4 linked regions of the Homo sapiens genome follow. The protein of the gene in region 3 purifies or fractionates together with the protein of the main gene of each other region. This does not show direct contact. Each region holds a gene or a part of one and is shown on either strand. Other genes may lie near its edges.

The links. The genes of interacting proteins can lie anywhere in the genome.
Region 1: the proteins of ESRRB (region 3) and SPTBN4 purify together in Homo sapiens (affinity purification with mass spectrometry, with the first as the bait; one large-scale study listed by BioGRID). This does not show direct contact.
Region 2: the proteins of ESRRB (region 3) and DNAJC10 purify together in Homo sapiens (affinity purification with mass spectrometry, with the first as the bait; one large-scale study listed by BioGRID). This does not show direct contact.
Region 4: the proteins of ESRRB (region 3) and PKDREJ purify together in Homo sapiens (affinity purification with mass spectrometry, with the first as the bait; one large-scale study listed by BioGRID). This does not show direct contact.

What each region holds. Positions count from the first base shown.
Region 1 is NC_000019.10:40,473,501-40,477,000, reverse strand, and holds part of SPTBN4 (spectrin beta chain, non-erythrocytic 4), read right to left. Parts: intron 1-3,500.
Region 2 is NC_000002.12:182,792,111-182,794,964, reverse strand, and holds the end of DNAJC10 (dnaJ homolog subfamily C member 10 isoform 1 precursor), read right to left. Parts: 3' UTR 501-2,854; downstream 1-500. UniProt on the Homo sapiens protein: Endoplasmic reticulum disulfide reductase involved both in the correct folding of proteins and degradation of misfolded proteins.
Region 3 is NC_000014.9:76,477,137-76,480,636, reverse strand, and holds part of ESRRB (steroid hormone receptor ERR2), read right to left. Parts: intron 1-3,500.
Region 4 is NC_000022.11:46,260,544-46,264,719, forward strand, and holds the start of PKDREJ (polycystin family receptor for egg jelly precursor), read right to left. Parts: upstream 2,801-4,176; 5' UTR 2,780-2,800; coding exon 1-2,779. UniProt on the Homo sapiens protein: Testis-specific protein that controls sperm transport and the timing of zona pellucida-evoked exocytosis of the sperm acrosome.

The DNA of each region.
Region 1 (3,500 bases), on a different chromosome or scaffold from region 3:
ACATCTGTAATCCCAGCTACTCAGAAGGATGAGTTGACACCGGGAGTTTGAGACCTGTCTAGGCAACATGGAGAGACCCCCTCCTCCTCAAAAAACAAACAAAAACTAAAAACAGGACGGGCGCGGTGGCTCATGCCTGTAATTCCAGCACTTTGGGAGGCCAAGGCGGGCAGATCACGCGGTCAGGAGATCAAAACCATCCTGGCTAACACAGTGAAACCCCATCTCTGCTAAAAATACAAAAAATTAGCGGGGCATGGTGGCAGGCGCCTGTAGTCCTAGCTACTCGGGAGGCTGAGGCAGGAGAATGGCATGAACCCAGGAGGCGGAGCTTGCAGTGAGCCGAGATAGTGTCACTGCCCTCCAGCCTGGGCGACAGAGCAAGACTCCTTCTCAAAAACAAAAACAAACAAACAAAACTAAAAACAAACTCACTTACACTAAATTAGTAAATTCTAGAATTCTAAGTTGATATGTTCCTACCTTTTTAAGGTTCTAAGGCTCTAAAAGTATGACTGTAAGTTTCCATGAGTGTATGTTTTCATCAGTCTAGGTTTCTAGATCAGACAAAGCTGGCAATCCACCAGTTGAATCTGGTTCATACTTTGTGGCATATACAGATTTCTCTCTCTCTCTCTTTTTTTTTTTTTTTTTTGAGACAGAGTTTTGCTATTGACGCCCAGGCTGGAGTACAATGGCACGATCTAGGCTCACTGCAACCTCCGCCTCTGAGGTTCAGGCGATTCTCCTGCCTCATCCTCCTGAGTAGCTGGGATTAGAGGCACGCGCCACCACACCCAGCTAATTTTTGTATTTTTAATAGAGACAGGGTTTTGCCGTGCTGGCCAGGCTGGTCTCAAACACCCAACCTCCAGTGATCCCCCCACCTTGGCCTCCCAAAGCGCTGGGATTATAGGCGTGAGCTACCGCGCCTAACCAGGTTTCTTATTGTTTTGAGACAGGGTCTCAACCTGTTGCCCAGGCTGGAGTGCAGTGGCACAATCTCGGCTCACTGCAACCTCTGCTTCCCGGGCTCAGGAGATTCTCCCACCTCAGCCTGTTGACTAGCTGGAACTACAGGCATGCGCCACCACACCTGGCTAATGTTTATATTTTTAGTAGAGACGGGGTTTCACCATGTTGGCCAGGCTGGTCTCGAACTCCTGGGCTCAAGCGATCCGCCCGCCTCGGCCTCTCAAAGTGCTGGGACTACAGGTTTCTAGATCAGCCAGGTTTCTTGAGCCAGCGCCATGGCTCATGCCTGTAATCCTAGCATTTTGGGAGGCCAAGGTGGGCAGATTGCCCGAGCCCAGGAGTTCAAGACCAGCCTGGCCATCATGGTGAAACCCCGCCTCAATTAAAAATACAAAAATTAGCCAGGCATGGTGGTGCGGGCCTGTAGTCCCAGCTACTCGGGACTCCCGAGGCGGGAGAATCTCATGAACCTGGGAGGTGGAGGTTGCAGTGAGCTGACATTGCGCCACTGCACTCCAGCCTGGGCAACAGAGTGAGACTCCACCTCAAATAAATAAATAAATAAATAAAGTTCCAAAAATCTTAGTATCAGAGATCCATCTTGTGATTATAAACTGCTGAGTTACTAAAGTTCTAAGATTTGGAGGGAACTGATTCTGACCTTTGGGTTTTAAGAATTCATGATTATGATCATCTATATTTTATGATTCTAGCGCTCCGTGTTTCTAAGATGTTAAGGTCCCAAGGGTCAAAGGTGCTAGGGTGTCATGTTTTAAAGGCTTATGATTATGACGTTCCATATCTCTGAGGCTCCTCAGGGTCTTTGCCAGTTTTAATGCTGATGATTAAACACTTCTAAGGTTCCAGACCTCTATGAATACTAAGTACTAAGGTTCAAGGGTCTACAGTTCTAAAGGTCTAAGGTCTTTCTATAACTATAAAGTTCTCTGGTCTTTGCTAATATTGTTCTGATACATCAAAGTAGGGTGACTACTAGGCACTCTGGCTTACCCCTGTAATCAAAGCACTTTCGGAGGCCGAGGTGGGAGGGTTATTTTAGCCCAGGAGTTCCACACCAGCCTGGGCAACATAGCAAGACCCCATCTTACAAAAAAATTTTTTTGTTTTGTTTTGAGACGGAGTTAAGCTCTTGTCACTTAGGATGGATTGAAATGGTGTGATCTCAGCTCACTGAAACCCCCATCTCCCGGGTTCAAGTGATTCTCCTGCCTCAGCCTCCTGGGTAGCTGAGATTACAGGTGCCCACCACCACACCCATCTAATTTTTGTATTTTTAGTAGTGTCACCATATTGGTCAGGCTGGTCTCAAACTCCTGATCTCAAGTGATCCATCCGCCTCAGCCTCCCAAAGTGCTGGGATTACAGGCATCCGCCACCATGCTTCGCCAAAAAAAAAAATTATTTTTAATTAGCCAGGCATGGTGGCGCATGCCTGTAGTTCCAGCTATTCAGGAGGCTGAGGTGGGAGGATCACTTGAGTCCAGGAGTTCAAGGCTGCAGTGAGCCATGATCACACCACTGCACTCCAGCCTGGGTGAAGAGTGAGACCCTGACTCAAAAAAAAAAAAAAAATGGTAGGGTGACCCACTGTACTGGTTGGCCCAAGGCTGAGAGTTTCGGTGGTAAAAGCAGGAAGGTTTTGGTCACTCTATGTCAGATTTCTCAAGATCCACATTTCTAATTGGAAACTCCAAAGGTTTAGTATTATCAAGTCCCAAAGGTTCCTGTGTATTACAGTTTCAGTTTCTAAGGGCCTATGATCCTAGGGAACAATGACTAAAATTTCTTAGGTCTGTGATGATAACGTTTCACATTTCCAAAGCTCTTTTTTTTTTTTTTTTTTTTTTTTTTTTGAGATAGGTTCTTGCTTTACTGCTGGGGCTGGAGTGCAGTGGCGCGATCTTGACTCACTGCAATCTCCACCTCACAGTCTCAGGCCATCCTCCCACCTCAGCCTCCCAAATAGCTGGAACTACAGATGCATGCCACCACGCCTGGCTAATTTTTTTTTTTATTTTTATTTTTAGTAGAGACAGGGTTTCACTATGTTGGCGAACATGGTCTCGAACTCCTGCACTCAAGAGATCTGTCCACCTTTGCCTCCCAAAGTGCTGGGATTACAGGCGTGAGCCACCGCGCCAGGCCAGAGGTCTTCATTTCAAGAGGTCTAAGAATCTCTTAGACATTTCAAGTTCCAAGGATCTGATGGCTCTGCATTTCGGGATTCTAAGGGAATATGCTTACAGAGTCCCACCATTCTGGGACTGTACATTTCTAAGGCTCTAAGGCTGTGCTGACCTATACAGCAGTCACAAGCCACATGTGGCTATTTAAATTTAATTAAAACAGGCCGGGTGCCGTGGCTCATGCCTGTAATCTCAGCACTTTGGGAGGCCGAGACATGTGGATCACCTGAGGTTGGGAGTTCGAGACCAGCCTGACCAACATGGAGAAACCCCGTCTCTAGTAAAAATACAAAATTAGCTGGGCGTGGTGGCACATGC
Region 2 (2,854 bases), on a different chromosome or scaffold from region 3:
ACCGGATGGCCCTTCCATACTCTAGAGCTGCTGCTGCCAGTTTAACATCTATACTGGTTAATTTCATACATTCAAACACCTTACTTCATTTTCTTATCCATCTGCTGTAGCAATGTCACAAACTGGAAACCCCAGGCTGGATATGGTATTGTTTGACCCTCATATATTTAAATGTTTTAAGTAGTTGTGAACATTTGAAATATTTTACATAAAAACCCGGATTGGGGTAAATTCTGGGTAAACTGGAACATCTGGGTCTCTTTCTTCATGACAATACTCTTTTGGAGCAGAGAAACTACTGCCTTTTTAAAATAGTGCATGCACTAACTACCGTCATGTACTTTACCTACAAAACACCCTTAACTATGTGAGTTTGCAATGCCTGACTACAGCCTCACTTCACTCTGGAAGATAAGGACATTCGTACTTCTACCCGTCCTTAACCTGGGTCAGTGTATATAATTATTTTTATGTTGTTAAGCTGAAAATTGGTGACACAATTTGCATTTTTGTGACAAGTTTATTTCACTTCTACATGTTATAAAAAAACATAGCTCACTGCAAAGACAAACAGTAGAATCAAATCTAGAATGACATTTCTTACTCTGTAAGTTTAATGTGGTCATCATGCAAAGGAGAGAATCTGAATGGATTATTTCTATCCTTCATCTATTGTTTCCTATGTACTCAAATTTTTCTGAGGTCCGCAAATACGCATCTGACTTATTGCCTCATTCTTTCTCCTCAGAGACTTCTTTCCCAAGCTCTCTGCTCTCTCGCCCCATCTGCCCCAGGTGATGTTTAGGCCTCCTACTTAGCTGCTGTCCTGTGGATTTGTTCACTGCTCTCTTGGGTTGGAGTCACTGTTTCTTGGATCCCCATGCATTGTTGTTTATGCCTTCATTTGGAGGAGGTGTTTCATCACCTAACCACCTAAAAATATATTTATCATCTGCCTGCTACTTGTTAGTCTGGGTAGGTATGAATAGAATCCTAGGTTAAAAATATTTTCCTCTCAGAATTTGGAAGGCTTTGCTCCAAAGTCTTCTAGAATACTTCAAGCTCCAATTACTTTCTAATTGTTATTTTTTTGTAGGTAGTGTGTGTGTGTGTGTGTGTGTGTGTGTGTGTGTGTGTGTGTGTGATGTGTTTCCTCTCTGGAAAATTTTAGGATTGCTAAATTAAATAAGCAAGAGGACCTTGGCCTGAGGCTGTCTCCAGACTTTGAGTTCCCATGTAATAAATTGCAACCTAATTTAGTACTTAAATAAACTGAAACCTAATTTAGGATTATATAGATATATTTTTGTAACAGATAGGTCACAGCCAATTGCATGCTGCCAACTTGCCTTATTTGGAGCAGACCATGTCCAAATAAGGCAAATGCCTATCTGTAACCAATCAAGCTATTTCTGTACTTAATTTTTGTTTTCTGTCTATGAATGTTCACTGCATACCTCGCAAAGCAGAGCTCTCTGAATGTCTTCTGGTTCTCAGTGCTGCCTGATGGATGAATTGTTCTTCACTCAAATAAAATGTTAAATATATTTTGCTGAAAGTTTCTCTTTTACCAGGATCTTCTTTTTGGTTCTGGAATTTCACAATTTCACTGTGAGTAGAAGTTGAAGTCCTTACAAAAGTTAGAAAGCTAAAGTCCTTACAAGTGACCTGCAAAGCCCTCTATGATCTGGCTCCCCACTTTCTCTCTCCCTCTAACTTCATCTTCTCTCCTGCTAGCTCACTCCATTCCAGCCACATGAGCCTCCCTGCTGTTCCTTGAACCTGCCAAGCATGCCTTGGAGCCTGTCCTCTGGCCTTTCTCTCTGTTCATATGCTCTACCCTCAGCCCATTTAGTGGCTACATTTTTTCCACCTCCTTCAATGGCATCTTCTCCAAGAGACCTGCCCTGTCCACCCTATTTAATACCGAAACTCTCCTGCTGCTGCCCCCACACTCCTAATCCCTCATACCCTGGTCTACCTTTTTCTTTATTTCACAGCACATCTTCTAACATACTTCTAACATACTTAACATTTGCTTATATTAATTGTTTATTGTCTATCTCCCCACTGCGAGAATAGAATCTTCATGAGGTCAATACATTTAATACACTATCTTAAATGCATAGAACAAAGCCTAGCACATTGTAAGTACTCAAATAAATGTTTGCTGAGTGACATGGGGCTCATGTTGAGCTCATGTAACTTCCTCATAAATGATTTCTATTCAGGAAGGCCAAAGGAAAGATGACAAGGAGGATTACGATGTTCCATTAGCGGAAGAATTGAGTCTAACTTCACACACTTCTCTTGCAGATAAACTGGTTTGAGGTTATAGGCCTCTAATTTATCAAGAAAGAAACTGGCATGCATTTAGATGGACTGCTTAAGCCAATAGGTCTGTAATCTGTGGGGAGCAAAGAGGTGTTCTTTCAAACAATGAGAGGTTAAACAATACATTTATCAGATGGGACTTTTGTGAACATTGAGGGACAAAACAGGAAGCTGAAAAGGAAACCAATCAATTCTACCAGGGTTTATAACAGCTGTAATGAAAAGCCTTGGGGAAGGAAAGAAATTGGAATATATCCTCTTCATTATTTTTTGTACCTCAAAATGTTATCCTGTTCCACAACCCTCAAAACCCCTCACAAAGATAACCAACTACTGTAATCCTCATTTAATAAACATAGACTTCAGATAGTGCATTTAATTCTAATGAAACTTGTGCAAGATTATAGCATGGAGATAAAAAAATAATTGTTCACTGATGGTATGCAAGCATTTGTGAGGATTACTTATAAATTGACTTGAGCATCTCTTTTTTCTTTAATTTACTCTTTGAACATGTATT
Region 3 (3,500 bases):
GAACAGGCAAGGGGAAGTCAGAACAATGGTTACTTAATGGAATGATGATTTAGAGCCCATTCATGCCTGGGGCTATTTTCTGGCTGTTTCTTTGTTAGGATGTTCAGCTACTAAATTTCAGTCCCTGAGAAGAAGGAAGTTTCCTAGAGCAACTGAAAGCAAAATTACTTTGTTTACTGAATGAGTGGAGAAAACTCCTTTAAGTGCACATTGCCCTAAAGGAACTTTGGGATGCTAAGGACACTACCCCCCACCCCTCTGCTGCCCCAGGTGTTTTCAGTTCAGGACTCCAGCCCTGGAGGGCAAGGATGCTGTGAGTTCACTGAGTGAGCCCACAACTCCTCATTTTTGTCAGCAATGTCTTTTTCAACCCCACAACCTGGTGTATTTGTACCTGGTGCTAAACGTTTTTTAGTCGGGGAGAGGGGGAGTCTACTCAGCAGCCCACCCAGGCTTCCTGTTTAAAGGTAATTCCCCTGGTCAGGTGCGGTGGCTCACCCCTGTAATCCCAGCACTTTGGGAGGCCGTAGCCCTTGAGGTCAGGAGTTCAAGATCAGCCTAGCTACCATGGCGAAACCCCATCTCTACCAAAAATACAAAAATTAGCCAGGTGTGGTGGCACGTGCCTGTAATTCCAGCTACTCGGGTGGCTGAGGCACAAGGATCGCTTGAACCCAGGAGGTGGAGGTTGCAGTGAGCTGAGATTGCACCACTGCACTCCAGCCTGAGTAACAGAGTGAGACTCCATCTCAAAAGAAAATTTAAAAAATGTAATTCCCCTATTGGGAATACGGAAACTGTTGGAAGTCTGTGTCCCACCCCTCAATGGATATCTGAGAAGTACATGTTCTCCTTCTCTCTGCTCTCTGGAGGTCAAGGCATGGACCCGTGACACAGGCTCAGCCAAGTGCACCATCAAACGGAGGCACAAGGACAGAGCGAAGGTGAGGACTGATCAGACCAGCAGCGCCTCCCCAGCAGAGTGTAGGCAGCCCCTGGCCAGTATGTCCTGGCTACTGGGTTTCCTGCTCCTGGGCTCTCCAGGGATTCTCCTGGTTCTTGTCTGGTTTCTAAATGTACTCTTTGAACCTCCTGATAGGCTTCCAATAAACTCCCCTTCTGCCTAGAAGGTCAGGTTTTGTAACTGACATTTGTTGTTGACTTCTCCAGGAGCAGAATCTGAGACAAGGCTGTGCATGCGAGCAGTTTCCAAGGAGGGAAGAAAGCCAATAACAAATGTGTTCCTGAGGACAGTACTGCTGTGGGCAACTGAGGCTCCCAGCTACCGGCTGCTTTGGCGCTTCTTGCCTGCCTCCCAGGTCCAGGCTGAGCAGACTCTGGTGGCCAAAGAAAGCCTAGGCGTCAGATCAGCACACACACACACACGCACGCATGCACACGTACACACACACACACACAAACAGACAGTGCTGAGTAGGTGTGGGCAGGAGCAGTCTCCGCTGTCTTCCTCCTCAAGTGTGGTCTGCAGGCCAGCATCATCACCATCATTTGAGGCTTGTTAGATGCCTCAAAATCTCAGGCCTGGCCACAGAGGAATCAGACAAGGTGATTTGCACGGACAACAGAGTTTGAGGAGCACTGCACTAAGGCATCCTAGCAAACGCAGCTGTACCATCAACTTCTGCCTGTACCTTGGACCCTAAAGGGACAGCTAGATGCCATCCAGCTCCAGACCTGAACCTATGTGCTGCTAGCACTTTGGCTCACATTTGCTCCCTCACCCCCTGCAAGCCCCTTCAGTGACAGCATAAGGAGCAGACACAAACACAGGAAGGATGATTCTTCCTGTAAAAGTCTTTTGGGAAAAGTTCCCTGTCTAGAAAAGCTTTCTGACTCTATCCTGTGACATGTCTACATAGAAGCCTCCTCTGTTCACTATACCCAGGCCAAACCAAACCCTCCACCAAGTTCTGCTTCCCCTTGGAATGGTGACAGGACCGAAAGTGAAAACGGTCCACCTCATCCATAAGAGACAGTAAGGGCCCCCACTTACTGAGCACCTACTATATGCCAGGATCTTAAACATATACTCTCCTTGAGTCCAGGACAAGCCCCTTCCCCACTTTACTGACCTTCTCTCCTAGATACCACTGGAATGAACTCTCGCTTCCCATCCAGCCTGCTTCCCGGCAAGCAGCTGTCAATCAGAGTGAGGCATGCTCAACACAAAATAAAAAGAGGTGTCTGTCCCTCGGCAAGGCAAGGAGATGGGCAGCTGCCACCTCTGCCGATGTCTCCATCTGGGATGTTCTGTGTCCTGATATAGGGCCTGACCTTTCATGGATGTTCAGGAAAGACTTGATGAATACAGGGGTGGATGTACCTCTGTCCTCCTCATCCCCATGCCAGGCTGGGGGCTTCTTCATGGGCTCCCAGAGCACACTGGGCTTCCCCTACTGACTAGGCACCCGTTAAGGCCAGGGGCGGCTCACAGTCCTGCCCCAAAGTCTGTCATGGTACCCAAGATGCAGCATGTGCTTAGAAAATGGGATTATTATGGTTATTATCATCATCCTTATTATTACTGTTCCCCAGCATTGCATCCAAGTTTTTGGTAAATCACATGAATAATGATAATGATAACAGCATAATTTGTAAAGGACTCTCTGTATGTATTACCCTACTTAACCCACAAAAATATAAGGCAGGTGCTATTATCCTCATTTTACAAATAAGAAAAACTGAGGCTCAGAGAGATTCAGTGATTTCCCCAATAAAAGACCCAAGCTTTTTGCCATTCCATGGTATGACCTCCCAGCGCACAGCAAATGTTAAATTCTCCTCTAAATTTTCTCCTCCTGATCTTTACAGCATAGTGGTCAATGGCTCCAATCAATACGTGTATCAATTATCAGATTACGCTGTTAAAAAAACAGTAGCCTGTTGGGTTTAATTATGCACAAACTGACACCTGATGTGAAATGTGTCTGTTCCCCTTGCTTCCTGTCTGCTCTTCTGAGCCTGCCCTAAGCACAGCCCACAATCACTGCAGCCCATGGGCTCGATAATGAAGGTCCCATGCCCATCTCTGTCCCTTACGGGTTATTTCAGGTTATTTGGCCTTGGACAAGTGGGCTTCAGCTGCATCTTCAGGTCTGGGGAAGGAGGCGATGGTAAAACCAACTCTGCTCAAGGTAGATGGCTTTTGTGACAATTGTATGACTTAATGATGAGAAAATGCTTGGTAAGCTGGAAAGCAGTTCCAGTAGGCTGGGTGAGGCCATCTCTTCTACCACCCTCCTGCCAACCCATAGCACTTCAACATTCATCTGATACCTCACAGGCCACCTCATGCTGGTTTCCCTTTATACCCATCAGCTCTTCGATTCGATGGGTTCTTAGAGGACAGGACCCTGGCTTGCTCTATTTCTCCCCTGCTCTGGCACTGCCTCACACTCAGGACTTGCTAGGGCCATTTAGAGTGGGAGGGTCCTGTGACACAGACCTGTGCACCCCTAGCCTGGGGTTGGGGAAGATGG
Region 4 (4,176 bases), on a different chromosome or scaffold from region 3:
CCACCGAAGTGTTTTCCTGATCATTTAACCAAGGAAAGAGGTCATTTGTGAAATCACAAAACATTGTAGAAATGGGACCATTTGCAGACAGACCAGGAACACTGCTCACATTGAGTGTTGGATAAAAACAATTTCTGCAGTGTTTCTCATTTCTGAAGAGCTGGTTGATACCCCACTTTTCAACTTTCTTGACATACATGTTGAAATTGGGGGTTCTCATTGAGGTGGTTTTGTTCCCTGGCACTTTATTAGCCAGTATTGTGTCTGATAGAGATTCTATTACATAGAAAGGATCTTTAACTACTTGGTGAGGAGAAGTCATTTTAAGAATATTAGACAAACTCATTAGTATTCCAGTACTCACGATTTCTATTTGTTCAGATCGAAAGCGTTTATCTTTTTGCTGATACTCTTGTAGGGCTTGATTTGCTTGCCATACCCTCATGGTGGCACGTTTCTGAGCATCCCAAGTGAATTCAGAGGGTTTCTGGGTTAATTTGGTAATAGTCATGACTACCTGGCCAATTTCTACCAAAGTGCTTACAGGAAGAAGGAAAGACTGATCGATGAGGTGTTTTCGGAGATTGACTCTGTCATCTCGGAGAGGTAATTCAGTTTTCATGTTATTCAAAACGGAAGCTACTATATACAGTAAGTAACCTGCAGGTAAAAAATCCTTCTTTTGAATCAAAGTAGACAGCAATGAACTTGGTCCCACGGTGAAACTGAGTAACTGATTCAACACTGTCTTTGATGAATTTTTGTCAGTGGGAGCCTGTGCGGTGGCATGCAAAGTCACCTGAGAAAAAGCTCCTAGAGAATCATAGACCTGGGCATATATCTTCAAGCCATATTGACTAGCCAACATACCAACAGGGAGAAAGGAAGGGGGTACTGTGGACTGAGGCCCCAAGTACAGGATGGTCCCCAGGGTGTTCTCTTTTACTGAACTGATTTCACCAACACTGTGCAAATCAGAAACAATTATTTTATATGTAAGAGGGACGTGCTTATCCCTAAAATTACTACACTGGACAACAAATTTAGTAATAAGTGCAATTCCTTTAGCTGGATTAATTTTGCATTCTCCGATCTGAGGGCCATGGTTAATAATAAAAGAATGCCTGAAGACCGAGGTCACTCCACTCCAACATGCTAGATACAGAGAAATCGAAAACTCAGCTTCCAAAAAATGCCGAAAAGCAAAAGCTTTTATAGACAGATAAGCACCATTCCTTCCTGTTACAGTTTCCCCCATCCAATCAAATAGCATCTCACCACCTGAAGAAGACAAAATTGACCATTTATAGAAATCACGGCTTGCACAATTTGTGCAATTTAGGAACAAAGAAAATCTATCAGAGACAATGAAGTTTCTCTCACAATTTTCGATACATGTGATGTGTGCTATGGCTTTTGGTCCTTGGAGCACGTGGACCCTCTTATCAGAAAACGCTGTCCTAGAGTCCTTCCGAATCACCATTCTGAAGAAATACACGTGGTCGCCTTTAAGTGTTTCTGGCAAAAGTGTCAGTACAGGGCCCGAGGCCCAGGGCCATTTCAGATTGGCCTGCTCGGGGTGACAGACTTCCTTGCTCCCCAGGATTATTCGATCCCCACCGTAGTTTCTGGGATCTGTGGTACAGTACCAAAAGAACTGGAGTCCCTGTAACGGGCTGTCCGCATCTGGGTCCGAGGACGTGGACCCGTCCAGAATCAGCTGCTCTGTGAAATTAGCTGTTATGTTGGCATCGCCAAGCATCACCGCCTGCAGGGAACTCCTGACGATCCAGACATAGACGGCGTCCGAGTCTTTCACCTCGGGCATCTTGGGGTTCCCTGTGGTGATGGACACCGTGAAATTAAACACATACACTCCCCACTGTAACGAATTATTGGGGATGTGAATGAACAAGGGGCTGTTCCTGATCTCGAGCTGGGGCAGATCCAAGGGCTGCGTCCAGTCGGGCGCCTGACCCACGGCGGGCACGGAGAACACCTGCCAGTACTGGGCGATGGCGCGCGCGGCCGGGCAGTCCAGCTGCACCGAGGCGTTGATGGTGGCCTCCGCCTGCATGCTCAGGCGCACGGGGGCGCCCTTCTGGTCCGTGTTGATCCTCACGCGCTGGATGACGCAGGCGTTTATCTGACAGGACACGGACGACTCGACGGCTCTGTGGCTGGACGAGTTGACGGCCTGCAACATCACGCGCGCGGGGCCGTCTGTGGGGCACTCGGTGCGGGCCACGAAGCCCTGCTGGGGCCGCGGGCCTGGCGCGGCGGAGCGCGGGGAGACGCGGGCCGCGGGGGAGGCCGGGCGGGCGGCGCCGGGTCCGAGCAGCCGCAGGCGGAAGGCCCAGGCCAGGCGCCCGGGCGAGCGCGGCAGCCGCACGGACCACGTCAGGGAGAGGCGGCCGCCGCGCGCGGAGAGCTGCAGGTCGACGAGCGCGAGCGCGGGCGCGGCCGGCCAGGGCAGGCGTTGGGCGCTGAGCAGGACGCGCAAGTCGAGGCAGTACCAGCGCCGCCCGGTCCCGCCATGGGGGAAGCAGAGGCTGCCGCGGCCGCTCAGGACAGCGCCGCCCGCCCGCACCGCGCTGGGCCGCAGACTGAGGAGGGCGCGGCCGCCGCGCACCCCGAGGCCCGGGGCGCCCCTGAGGAGGCCACCGGGCGCCCCGGAGACGGCGGCTTGTGCCCCGCGAGGAACCGGCGGCAGCGGGAGGCGGCCGACGCTCAGGCTCAGGCCCACGCCCAGAAGGAGGAGAGCGGGCCCAGGCCTCATGGCGCCGGCCCAGGAGAAGCTGGGAGAGGCCGCGAGGCGCGCCCAACCGCCACCGGGGTCGCGGGGATAGTGAGGGTCTTGGGGACAGTGGGGGTCTCGGGCGTCGAAGGGCGCTGGCAGAGGGGTCCCAGGGACAGAGTCCCAGAGAGCAGCTGGGACCTCGGAGCTTGGGGTCAGTCGGCACTGGGGACTTCTTGGGTACCTCTTCCCTCTCCGTCCCCAAGTGTGTGCAGGCCCAGGGTCAGGATGGCTCAGGAGGGCAGTTCAGCCCCGTGCAGACCACAGAGCTGACCACGGAGAAGGGGCTTCAGCAGGAACCCTTGGGAAAGCCAGTCACAAAATGGGAGATCAGGAGGGAACCGTGAGATCCCTGGGCGCCCAGGAAGGTCTGACTCTCGGTTTCTTACTTTGGGGTCGCTTTGCTCTTTTCTTTCTAGTTGGTTTGGGGGTTTTGTTTTTTGTTTGTTTGTTTGTTTGTTTGTTTTTTGAGACGGAGTCTCTGTCACCCAGGCTGGAGTGCAATGGCTTGACCTCAAGTGATCCACCCACCTCGGCCTCCCAAAGTGCTGGGATTACAGGCATGAGCCACTGTGCCTGGCCTCATTCTTTAACTCTGTCCATTTTTGCTGTATATTTTGGGACTTGATTGATGGATTGAATGATTTTAGAGACAGGGTCTTGCTCTGTTGCCCAGGCTGGAGTGCAATGGTGCAATCATAGCTGACTGTAACCTTGAACTCCTGGGCTCAAGGAATCCTCCTGCCTCAGCCTCCCATACTACAGGTCTACACCACTACACCTGACTGATTTATTTTTTATTTTTGTAGAGATGGTGTCTTGCTGTGTTTCACAGGCTGGTCTCAAACTCGTGGTCTTAATTGGCCCTCCCCTGTATTAGTCCGTTTTCATGCTGCTGATAAAGACATAACCAAGACTGGGAAGAAAAAGAGGTTTAATTGGACTTACAGTTCCATATGGCTGGGGAGGCCTCAGAATCATGGCAGGAGGCAAAAAGCACTTCTTGCATGGCAGTGGCAAGAGAAAATGAGGAAGACGCAAAAGCGGAAACCCCTGATAAAAGCATCAGATCTCCTGAGACTTATTCACTACCACAGAACAATATGGGGGAAACTGCCCCTGTGATTCAGTTATCTCCCACCCGGTCCCTCCCACAACATGTGGGAATTATGGGACTATAAGATGAGATTTGGGTGGGGACACAGAGCCAAACTATATCATTCCACCCCTGCCAAATCTCATCTCCTCACATTTCAAAACCAATCATGCCTTCCCAACAGTCCTCCAAAGTCTTAACTCATTTCACATTAACTCAAAAGTCCACAGTCCAAAGTCCTGTCTGAGACAAAGGAAGTCGCTTATGCTTATGAGCCTGTAAA